Linked DNA regions of Homo sapiens: all the other regions are linked to region 1. The links come from fine-mapping of genetic effects on gene expression. A gene starts in region 1. Each other region holds a variant in brackets. All regions are shown on one strand. Distances are between the middles of the regions. Region 1 holds the start of RRAS2 (RAS related 2). Region 2 has its middle 26 kb from the start of CALCA. Region 3 overlaps COPB1 (coat protein complex I subunit beta 1).

Evidence for each region. PIP is the estimated chance that this variant, and not a neighbour inherited with it, causes the effect.
Region 2: its variant is the best candidate, but not a certain one, in a credible set for the expression of RRAS2 in lung (GTEx, PIP 0.87).
Region 3: its variant is the best candidate, but not a certain one, in a credible set for the expression of RRAS2 in whole blood (INTERVAL, PIP 0.59).

Annotation. Positions count from the first base shown.
Region 1 is chr11:14,357,194-14,361,336 of GRCh38, forward strand. RRAS2 (RAS related 2) reads right to left here and starts at 1,990. Exons shown (of 6, transcript NM_012250.6): 1 at 1,570-1,990. The coding sequence starts at 1,677. RefSeq lists an enhancer at 820-919 and silencers at 1,160-1,279, 1,320-1,519, 1,590-2,089.
Region 2 is chr11:14,996,651-15,000,793 of GRCh38, forward strand. No RefSeq gene overlaps it. Among named protein-coding and RNA genes, the nearest start is that of CALCA, 26 kb to the left of the region's middle. The variant T/C (reference allele first, on the strand shown) is at 2,112.
Region 3 is chr11:14,456,375-14,460,517 of GRCh38, forward strand. COPB1 (coat protein complex I subunit beta 1) reads right to left here. Exons shown (of 22, transcript NM_001144061.2): 20 at 3,834-3,923; 21 at 2,158-2,313; 22 at 1,138-1,509. The coding sequence ends at 1,450. Among named protein-coding and RNA genes, the nearest start is that of COPB1, 41 kb to the right of the region's middle. The variant A/ATT (reference allele first, on the strand shown) is at 1,700.

The sequences.
Region 1 (4,143 bases):
AAAAAAACGTAAATATTTGTGGTTCAAATCTTTTAAATAACACTACCAATATTGTAACCCAAGATTATTCTCCCACTCCTAGACTTCTCCTCCACTTATCCCCTCACCCCCACCCTCCCTCAGCCATCAGACTAGTCCCCAAAGGGTTAGCTATAAATTGTTTTGCTTTGCCATTAGATACGTACAATCTCTCTGCGCCCTAGGGAAATAGCAACCTGACAGCATCCCTGATTCTGTAGCCTGCTAAACTTAAACCAATCTCACCCCTTACTCAGTGATTTTTTTAACCCACTAATAAGCATACTGTAAATGCTCATTACATAAAACATCCTTTCTTCCTGGATTCAAAGGTTTTAGCAGCAGTAATCCAGGGAATATTATAGCAGCAATTATTGCTCATTTACTCAATGTGAAAGGTGACAATCACATTTGTTACAGTACTCAATATTTTAATGTCACTATAAACACTAAGTGAAATAAGCTATTCAGGTATCCCAATTAATGACAAATGGGTGAAAAGGAAACCAGACAAAAATATTTCACCGTTCATACTCTAGATACTGTGAAAAATATCCTTGTTTCCTGTTATAACAGGGTACCTTCGTTCTCTCCCAGCATATGCCACACCTTTTAGGTTGACAAAAGCAGAAAGACATCGGGGCTTTGTGTTTTAAAAATCCCAAAAAAGACTACTCAAACCTCTCCCCAAGAGCAAATTCTAAGAAGGAAGAATACCACCTCCCTTTTCTTTACCACAAACCCCTGACTTACCGTCTCTAGCAACCAGAGAGGGCTGGGGGTAGGGGAGAGGGTGGTTAGAAAACAGAACGCACGACTCGGTCATATCCTAGCCCGGCCCATCCCAAACTTCACCTAGGCACGGCGAGAAGCAGGACGGCATCAGGAATTCCTAGGAAATGGTCTCACCCCATCAGAGAACATTTTTAACTTCCTAGAAGCCACCATTTCCCCGGGGCATTATCACACACTCCCACCCGGACATATTACCTAAGAGAGTACTTATAAAAAGAGCGTAACACACACACAAAGAAATACACAGTACTTGAAGCGGGCAGCTCCGGCTCAGGCGGCGCGGGGAAGCCCGGAGACCACGCGGAGCCGCGGCCAAGTTGCCACCGCTATCGCCCCGACGGTGAAGGCGCGGCCGCAGGCGGCTGGAAAAGCAGCGCGCGGGGCTCCAGCTCCAGCCCCACGCCCGGACCCTCGGAGCAGTAAAGCCCGGCTCGGTGGCCCAGCCTCTCCCGGAGGTCTCTGGCCTCGGCCAGAGCAATAAGGTGGATCGGTGCTTCCCACCCTTCCAGCTCCGCCCTCCCGACCACATTCCTGAGAAGCCCTACTCCCGCGACGCCGCGCCCGGGAGGAGGCAGGAGCGCGACGCTGCGGCCGCAGGGCAGGAGCGTAGTCGGCCCCGCGCCCTCCCGCCCCCTGGCCCCGGCCCGGGCCCGCGAGGCGCCTCTGGGGCGAGGTCGCGGCGGCCGCCCCGCCACAGGTAGCGCCAGCCCCCGCCCGCCGCCGCTCCGGCGCCCCGGGCAGGCCCGCTCCAGGTACCTGGATGAACTGGATGGTGAGCGCCGACTTGCCCACGCCGCCCCCGCCGACCACCACGAGCCGGTACTTCTCCTGGCCGGAGCCGTCCCGCCAGCCGGCCGCGGCCATGGGGACGCTACAGAGCCCAGCCTGACTGCGCCGAGCCGCCGCTGCCGCCCGCCCTAGGCCCGGCTCCGGGGACGTGTGCGGCCGGCGGGCTGCGGGCGAGCGGCCGGGCTGGGGTCCCGGGTACCGGGAGGCGTCTGGAGGGCCGGTCAGCGCGGTAGCGCGGCGCTGGGGACTGGCTGGGTACCGCCCGAGGCGCGGAGAAGCGGGGTGACGGCACGGGCCAGGGGCGGCAGCGGCCGGGGGGCGCGCTCCTCTACGCGTCTCCGCAGCGCCTGCCGAACGCAGCCTCCAGCGCCGCCACAAATGGCCGTCTGGGGGCCGGGCTGCCAGGCTGAGGTGCTGCATATGCATGAGGGGGCGGGGAGGGGCGGGGCCGCGCCGCTTGGGGCTGAGGTTCGGGAGGTAACCCGGGCTTCAGACCCCCACGGACACACCGCTCTAATCCCTAGCCAGTGAGCGAGTGCGTGAGAGTGTGGGAGTGGGTGTCAGTTGGGAGTGGGACGAAGGCAGAAAGAGTGTGTCACCCTAATTGTCTATGTAAGGGATTGTGTGGATGAAAAATACAATATGTGACGGCGTGTGCGAAAAATAGGGCTGTTGGCATATTAACTCAATTTTATAGGAGAGTACATACCCTGCTTTAAGAGTACAGATGGTGACCATATTTGTGTGAAAAACAGTATGTGACAGTGATTGAGGATTAGAGCTGTGTCACAGTAATTGAGTGTGTGATGGGCTGGTGGTTGTGACAGTGTGAAGAATGGGACAGTGGCTGAGCATGGAGAATAAGTCAGTGATTGAGCTTGCATGGGCAAGACGGAATGTGACAGATTTTGTATGTGTCAGTACAGTGTCATAGTGGCTATGTTTATGTGTGACAAATGTGCAGTAATTGGATATGAGGAGTGTGAGTGCGAGGGGTTGAACTCCTGGCCTCAAGCAATCCTCCCGCCTCGGCCTCCCAAAGTGCTGGAATTACAGGTGTGAGTCACTGCACCCGGCCTCATGGGGTTTTTAATAAGAATTAAATGAGCACATAAAACAGTGCTGCTACACAGGAAGCATTTACAGCAATCTTGGAACATGACTGCAAGTTCTTGGACTTCACTTGGTAACTCATTTGGAACCAGTAGAATGCAGCAGAAGAGATGCTGCCTAATTTCCCAGGCTAGATCAGAAGAGGCCATGCAGCTGTTCTCTTGGTATTCTCACTCCGGGAGGAACAAAGTCAGAAGTTTGACTATCATAAGACTGCCATGCTAAAGAGGCTACATGTAGGCATGCCAGTCGAAGTCTGATTGATGGCCAGGAGCAACATGCCATTTAAAAAAAAAAAAAAAAAGTCCCACTGAGCTCCCACCAGATCACCAGCATCACCTGCCAGCCATCTAAGTGAGACATCTTGGACACTCAGCCTAATCGAGCCTTCCAATGACGGCATCCCCTGTTAGCATCTGAATGCAACTGCGTGAGAGACCCCAAGCAAAAATACCCATCCAGGCCAGCCCATCCTGAATTCCTTTTTTAAAAATCTTTTTTTTTTCTTTTTTGAGACAAGATCCCTCTGTCACCCAGGCTGAAGTGTAGTGGCACAATCATGGCCCACTGCAACCTCCAACTTCTGGACTCAAGTGATCCTTCCACCTCAGCCTCCCTAGCAGCTGGGACTACAGGCACATGCCATCAAGATCAGGTAATTTTTTTTTTTTTAAGAGACAAGGTCTCTCTATGTTACCCAGGCTAGTCTCGAACTCCCAAAGTGCTGGGATGGCTGGGCGCAATGGCTCATGCCTGTAATCCCAGCACTTTGGAAGGCCAAGGCGGGCGGATCGCTTGAGCCCAGGAGTTCCAGACCAACCTGGCCAACATGGCTAAACGCATCTCTACTAAAAATACAAAAATTAGTCCGGAGTGGTGGCGTGCACTTGTACTCTCCGCTACTCCGGAGGCTGAGGTGGGAGGATCACTTGAGCCTGGGACGCGGAAGTGACAGTGAGCCAAGTTCACGCCACTGCACCCACGCCTGGGCGACAATGCGGGCTCAAAAAAAAAAAAAAAAAGTGCTGGGATTACAGGCATGAACCATCACTCCCGGCCCTTCTTGAATATTTGACCCACAAAATCATGAGCAAAATAAAATTGTAGTGGCTCACGCCTGTAATCCCAACACTTCGGGAGGCCGAGGGAGGCGGATTGCTCGCTTGAGCCCAGGAGTTCCAGACCAGCCTGGCCAACATGCCAAAACCCGTCTCTACAAAAAATTACAAAAATTAGCTGGGCGTGGTACACGCCTATAGTCCCAGCCACTCCGGAGGCTGAGGTGGGAGAATTGCTTGAACGCTGGAAGCGGAAGTTACAGTGAGCCAAGATCGTGAGATCACGAGATCACACCACTGCACTCCCGCCTGGGCGACAGAGCCGTCTCAAAAAAAAAAAATGTACTGGGATTACAGGCATGAGCCATCA
Region 2 (4,143 bases), 640 kb after region 1:
AGGAAATAAGAGAGGTCACAAACAAATGGAAAAACATTTCATGCTCTTGGATAGGAAGAATCAGTATCGTGAAAATGGCCATACTGCCCAAAGTAATTTATTGATTCAATGGTATCCCCATCAAGCTCCCATTGACTTTCTTCACAGAATTGGAAAAAACTACTTTAAACTTCATATGGAACCAGAAAACAGCCCGCATAGCCAAGACTATCCTAAGCAAAAAGAACAAAGCTGGAGGCATTGCGCTACCTGACTTCAAACTATATTACAAGGCTACAGTAACCAAAATAGCATGGTACTGGTACCAACACAGATATACAGACCAATGGAACAGAACAGAGGCCTCAGAAGTAACACCACACATCTACAACCATCTGATCTTTGACAAACCTCATACAAACAAGCAATAGGGAAAGGATTCTCTGTTTAATAAATGGTGTTGGAAAAACTGGCTAGCCATATGCAGAAAATTGAAACTGGACTGTTCCTTACACCTTATACAAAAATTAACTGAAGTTGGATTAAAGACTTAAACGAAAGACCTAAAACCATAAAAATCCTAGAAGAAAACCTAGGCAATACCATTCAGCACATAAGCATGAGCAAAGACTTCATGTCCAAAACACCAAAAGCAATGGGAACAAAAGCCAAAATTGACAAATGGGATCTAATTAAACGAAAGAGCTTCTGTGCAGCAAAAGAAACTATCATCGGAGTGAACATGCAACCTACAGAATGGGAGAAAATTTTTGCACTCTATCTATCTGACAAAGGGCTAATATCCAGAATCTACAAAGAACTTAAAACAAATTTACAAGAAAAAACAACCCCATCAAAAAGTGGGCAAAGGATATTAACATACACTTCTCAAAAGAAGACATTTATGCAGCCAAGAAACATATGCAAAAAGACTCATCATCACTGGTCATTAGAGAAATGCAAATCAAAACCACAATGAAATACCATCTCATGCCAGTTAGAATGGTGATCATTAAAAAGTCAGGAAACAACAGATGCTGGAGAGGATGTGGAGAAATAGGAACACTTTTACACTGTTGGTGGGAAGGTAAATTAGTTCAACCATTGTGGAAGACAGTGTGGCAATTCCTCAAGGATCTAGAACTAGAAATACCATTTGACCCAGCAATCCCATTATTGGGTATATACCCAAAGGATTATGAATCATTCTACTATAAAGACACATGCACATGTATGTTTATCATGGCACTATTCACAATAGCAAATACTTGGATCCAACCCAAATGTCCATCAATGATAGACTGGATAAAGAAAATGTGGCACATATACACTATGGAATACTATGCAGCCATAAAAAGGATGAGTTCATGTCCTTTGCAGGGACATGGATGAAGCTGGAAACTATCATTCTCAGCAAACCAAAACAAGAATACAAAACCAAACACCGCATGTTCTCACTCATAAGTGGGAGTTGAACAATGAGAACACATGGACACAGGGACGGGAACATCACACACCAGGGCCTATTGAGGGGTGAAGGGCTAGGGGAGGGATAGCATTAGGAGAAATACCTAATGTATTTGACAGGTTGATGGGTGCAGCAAACCACCATAGCATGTGTATACCTATGTAACAAAACTGCACGTTCTGCACATGTACCCCAGAACTTAAAATGTAATAAAAAAAAGAAAGATTCCAAGCATACATTTACCTATACAAAATCAGACAAAAAACACTGATACATAGGTGGTAGGCAAGTAGATAAATAAGAATAGTTTTATAATTAAGTTTCATGCTATACATGCCTTTTAAATGTACTTCATTAATTATATTTGAATTCAATAGAATAAAATAAGCTTAAGGAACTGCTGAATTGTAAGTAAATATTTAATAACAGGATCATACAATTTATCATGAATTAAAGCTGTACTTTGCATTTTTTAGTGCATATGTCTTCTTTAGACAGTAAGAATATTTTCCCTGCTATAAAAATACTTTCTCATACCTTCTCATTTTTCTTAGTCATAAAATTATTTTATTTTGTCAGAGCATATAGTACTTTTTACAGTAGGAAAACAGGAATGAATTAACACAAAATTTGAATGAAACTTAAAACAAAGCCTTGCATAAAA[T/C]GTATCACATTATTTCAGGAGTATGATTCTGGGAATCAGATATTATATGTTACCTTGCAATTTTTTCCAAGTTACAATTTATATACTATCAGATACACCCATTTTAAGAGCACTCACAGTTTGATTAATTTTGACAAATGTGTATACACATGTAATCACCACCATATTTAAGATGTAGAATATTTTTATCACCCCAAAAGTTTCCCTTCTTCCCCTTCCCAGCCAATCACCCTTTTCCTCACCCATACTTCCACTGATCTGCTGTGATTGTAGATTAGATTAGTTTTCTAGAGTTTCCAATAATCGTAACCATACATTATATACTCTTTTATCTGCATTCTTTTTGGAACCTATCCATGTTGTGTATATCAGTAGTTTGTTTCTTTTTACTTCTGAGTAATAGTTCATTGTATGAATGTACCACATTGTGTTTATTCACTTGATGGACATTTTGGCTGTTTGTAGTTTTTGTCTTTCATAAAAAAAAATCTGTGAACAATCTTGTACATATTGTTTTGTGGAAATATGTTTTTATTTTTCTTGGGTAAATACCTAGAAGTGTCATTGCTGTATTACATGATAAGCATATGTTTAATTTTATAAGCTGCCAAACCATTTACCAAAATGATTGTAACAATTTACATTCCCGTCAATTATTTATGACAATTCCACTTGTTCCACATTCTCCTCAACACTTAGCATTGTCAGCTTTTAAAATTTTTAGCCATTCTACTAGTGGTGTATTTGTATCTCACTGTGGTTTTGATTTGCATTTTCCTGATGACTAATAATCTTAGCATCTTTTGATGTGTGTATTGACCATTTGTGTATCTTCTTTTGTGGAATGTTTGTCAAAACCTTCCGCCTGTCTTTTAACTGAGTGGATGTCTTCTAACATTGAGTCATAAGAGTTCTTATAAATTGTGAGACTTATACATATCTGATATATATTTAGATATCAGTTTTTGTCAGATGTATGTATTATGAATATTTTCTCCCAGCCTGTGGCATTTCTTTAAAAAGCAGGAGGTTTTAGTTTTATGCAGTCCAATGTTTCATGCTTTTTGTTTCCTATGTAAAGAAATCCTTACCAACTCCAGGGTCACAAAGATTTTCTCCTGCGCTTTCTTCTCTAAGTTTTATAGTTTTAGCTTTTATGCTTAGGTCTATGGTCCTTTTCAAGTTAATGTTTTGGTATGGTGTGGGATCAAGATTTCTTTTTTTTTTTAATCTTACATGAATATTCAGTTGTTGCAGTACCATTTGTTAAAAAGATTATCCTCTTCTCATTGAATTGGCTTGGAACTTTTGTCAAAATCAGTTGACCACATGCATATATTTCTATTTCTGAACTCTTCTGTTGCATTGATCTGTATATTTATCCTTATTCCATTACCACACTGTCTTAATTACTGTAGTTTACATTAAGTCTTGAAAACAAGTAGTGTGAGTTCTCCTGATTTATTCTTTTTCAAAATGGTTTTGGCTATTGTAGGTCCTTTACATTTTGATTTATTACTATTTCTCACAGGTTTTTTTTTTGTAGATTTCTCCAAATTTGGTACTTACATTGTATCACCATCTGTGAATGAAAGCAGTTTTATATCTTTCTCTCCAATATGTATAACTTGTGTTTATTTTTCTTATCTTATTGCATTGACTTTGACATCCAGTACAATGTTAAATAAACATGATGGTTGTAAACATTTTTGCTTTGTTTACAATCTTTGGGGGAAAGCATTCATTTATTCACAAGTAAATGTGATGTCAACTTCAGGGTATTTATAGATTGTTTTGATCAAATTCCTTCTATTCTATAAAAACTGAGACTTTTTACCATAAATTTGACTATGTCAAATGTATTTTCTACACCTATTAAGATGTTCTATTTTTATTTTTTTAATGTTATTTTGTTGAATTGCATTGATTGATTTGAAATATTAAACAAACTTTGCATATCTGGGATAAATTCCACTTGTTCAAGATACATAATACTTTGTACATATTATTTGATGCAATTTGTTACTATTAT
Region 3 (4,143 bases), 99 kb after region 1:
AGCCTTAAGTTTAGACTTAGCTAAAAAATCAGACTACCTCAATCACCCCCAATGAAAGTAAAGGCCAAAAGGAAAGCACAATCAGACGCTGGGAAACTTAGCTTGGAAATGCATTTGGAATTATACTGCAGTGTGATGGTACCCAGTCCTAGTGTGAAGTGAGGAAAAGGAGACGAGTGAGTAAGGCACAGAGGCAACAGAGAAAAAGGCAGCTTTTTGAATCCTCTCTAGTTGAATCCTCCCAGTACCAGCTTCAGTAATTGGTTAGAACCAGTTTTATTCCTAACAAACATAGAACACCCTAAACTAAATGTGAGTAAGGCACGGAGGCAACAGAGAAAAAGGCAGCTTTTTGAATCCTCTCTAGTTGAATCCTCCCAGTACCAGCTTCAGTAATTGGTTAGAACCAGTTTTATTCCTAACAAACATAGAACACCCCAAACTAAATGTGAATGATTAAAAAATCTATTTTGGATTATCTACTCTTCATTATGATTCAGGATAATTAAGAACAGTATATCTATTTCAGTTCGGGTACATAATACTTCTTTAAACTGCAGAGCGATCTGTTTTCTCAAGTTATTTTGGGCCGGGTGCGGTGGCTCACGCCTGTAATCCCAACACTCCGGGAGGCTGAGGCGGGCGGATCACGAGGTCAGGAGATCGAGACCATCCTGGCCAACATGGTGAAAGCCCGTCTCTACTAAAAATACAAAAAATTAGCCAGGCGTGGTGGCGGGCACCTGTAGTCCCAGCTACTTGGGAGGCTGAGGCAGGAGAATGGTGTAAACCCGGGAGGTGGAGCTTGCAGTGAGCCAAGATCACGCCACTGCACTCCAGCCTGGGTGACAGAGCCAGACTCCATCTCAAAAAAAAAAAAAAAAGTTATTTTGATACTTTCTCCCTGGAGCTAAATTCAAGAGCAAATCCCTTCAAAACATGATAATGCATTTTTAGAGATAGCAATGTTGGAATATTAAATAAGTAAAAAACAACCAAGTGAATCAAGGCCTACCTTATTTTATATCATTGAATTTGTAAATTCTCTTAATAAAGCTGCATATATTCACAACTCAGTAATTTAAATTTATAATAGAAATTTATAACCCAACTAAAAGAAATCCATTGCCATATAACTAAAATTATGTAATCATTTATTTATAAAATAACAAAAATTTATGAATAGATCTGTTTATTGTACTGTGAAAAGGGTCTTGGTACATGAAACATTATATACTTTGAGGACAGCATTCAGAACTGTTAAGACAAAAGACAAACTATAATTTTAAACTCAATCTTGATTTAAGGGAAAGGCTATAAATTATTGGCTGAAAAGTATTCAGCATGAACTCAGATTCTATATAAGCATGAAAGAGTACAAAAGATGTTGGAGTCCAGTAAGCCCATACCTAAATTAACTGTAAAGCTTCAAGGACTTTTTGTTTATTTTTATATACTAGTTTTCTTCTGTGACAAGTTGATTTTATCTCCAAGACTTAAGGCCATTCCCTGTAAAGAAAAATTAAGATATTTATAATTATTTAAACTATGTACAATCAGTAGGTTATTCCATATTATTAAGCCCCAATTCAATTCAATGACACCATTATCAACAATAAAATCAAGGACATACCAAACAGACTTACCAAACTTTACTGGTAATTACCTTTCAGTGCTAGATTTTTCAAGCCGTCACCAG[A/ATT]TTTTTTTTTTTTTTTTTTTTTTTGAGACGAAGTCTCATTCTGTCACCCAGGTTGGAGTGAAATGGCACAATCTCAGCTCACTGCAACCTCCACCTCCCGGGTTCAAGCAATTCTCCTGCCTCAGCCTCCCGAGTAGCTGGGATTACCGGGTGTGCGCTACAACACCCAGCTAATTAGTCACTAGATTTACACCTTGGCTTTCAAAAAATTCTAGAGAACCCATTTCACAAACACCCCATAGGAATCAATCTGGTTTTAGGCAAATATCCCAGAATGAGGGGCCCAAAAGGTGAGAAATTTTAATGAGAAAAGTTATACTTCTATTCAGAGTATATTATTATTGTATGTGTATATGCATCTAATGCTAAAAAGATACTACATATAGAAATAATAAAGTCATAAATTCCTCCCCCCTTTGTCAGTCCAGAGATACTCTCAAAAAAAAAGGAACTGTTACCTGGCTCTTTGCACGAATTCTTATATGGCCGGTAACAGCAGCATCTGGTCCCTGGTGAATTGGCTTCTCAATGCTGACATTTGCAAGTGCATCTTCACCAAATATGGAACGAGCATAAAGGTTGGCTGCCATAAAGCCACAGTAACCAGAAAGGGCCTGGAAAAAATTTGTGATAAATTCATTACTTTACCAGATACCTACATAGAGGCAAAAACCAAACAGCATAGGTGACTTTTTTTTTTTTTTTTTTGAGACAGAGTCTCACTCTGTTGTCCAGCTTGGAGCTGGAGTGCAGTGGCGTGATCTCGGCTCACTGCAACCTTCCTCCCAGGTTCAGGCGATTCTCCTGCCTCAGCCTCCCAAGTAGCTGGGATTACAGGCATTCGCCACCACACCTGGCTAATTTTTGTAATTTTAGTAGAGACAGGGTTTCACCATGTTGGCCAGGCTGGTCTTGAACTCCTGACCTCAAGTGATCCACCCGCCTCGGCCTCCCAAAATGCTGGGACTGCAGGTGTGAGCCACCACGCCCAGCCCCATTGGTTATTTATCACTTAAAACAGTACTTACATACAGGGTGGTGGTTACATAATCTTATGAGTTTGTCAAAACTCAACTATACATGTAAAAAGTGTGAATTTTACTGTGTATTATACCTCAATAAATCTGATGTTAAATAAATAGTTCTTAATCCGATTTGTATTTATATATTCTGTTTACTTAACTTGCTTGACTGCCTCCCATATCAGACCTTAAGCGCCATGAAGGAAGAGACTACTTTTGTTGGACTCAGTATATGCTGAATAAACTAATATATAAATTAAAACCTACTTGTTTGGTAGCAGACATTATTTTATTTATAAAATGAATATTATAACATTATAGAAATTTTACATAAAGAAAAAAGTTCCTTAGAGCTCCAGCTTCATTTTTCTTTCTCTCTCGTTTTTTTCATACATACACAAACATAGCAAAAAGTCACAGTATAACAACGATTCTGTATTTGAGCACATATATTTTAACCAACAATCAGAGCCCACGGAAGAGCTCATGGACATTTTCTAATCCAGTATTACAAATAAACGATTTTATTTATCTTTTTGAGACAGAGTTTCACTCTGTCACCCACGCTGGAATGCAGTGGTGTGATCTCGGCTCACTGCAACCTCCACCCCCTGGGGTTCAGGTGATTCTCCTGCCTCAACCTCCCAAGTAGCTGGGATTACAGGCACGTGCCACCACACCTGGGTAATTTTTGTATTTTTAGTAGAGATGGGGTTTCGCCATATTGGCCAGGCTGGTCTCAAACTCCTGACCTCAAGTGATCTGCCCGCCTCAGCCTCTCAAAGTGCTAGGATCACAGGAATGAACCACCATGTGCAGCATAAACTACTTTAGAATGTGCCTCTAGCTGAATGGGGGAGAAGATTGAAAAGAAAATAAAAAAAAAATTAATCTGACTATTCAGTTGGGTCACTGCACTAGGAAAAAGTAGGATGGTATAGTCCAATAGAAAGAGGTAAGCAGATTCCAACATTCTATGGGATAACATCTTTTAGATAGCCTAGAATGGTACTGCATATTGAATAACAAAAATGTGCTAGAGGAAATACAGGAAGGCCAGGAACCTACTCTACCATTCCATCAGATTTCTGAATTTCCTAGTCAAATTTTACCTTTTCTGGAGTCAGGCATTTCATATTGGTTGACTTTAATATGTGCTGTAAGTAGTCATTTAAATCAACCATGTTGGTGTTAACTGTCACCTGTAGAGAGGAAAAAAAAGTCAAGGAGATCATAAATCTTACTATGAGAAAGCTGTGAATCACCAGTATGTCATATTAAAAACTTGTTCCAACTGTTTAGGTTGGAAAGAGTAGACACCAAGAAACTAAATAACATCTATAAAATCCAACAAGCTGTAGGTTGGTATCAGTACTTCCCAATAGAGATAACTTCACAGAGATTCAATATGAAGCATATAGA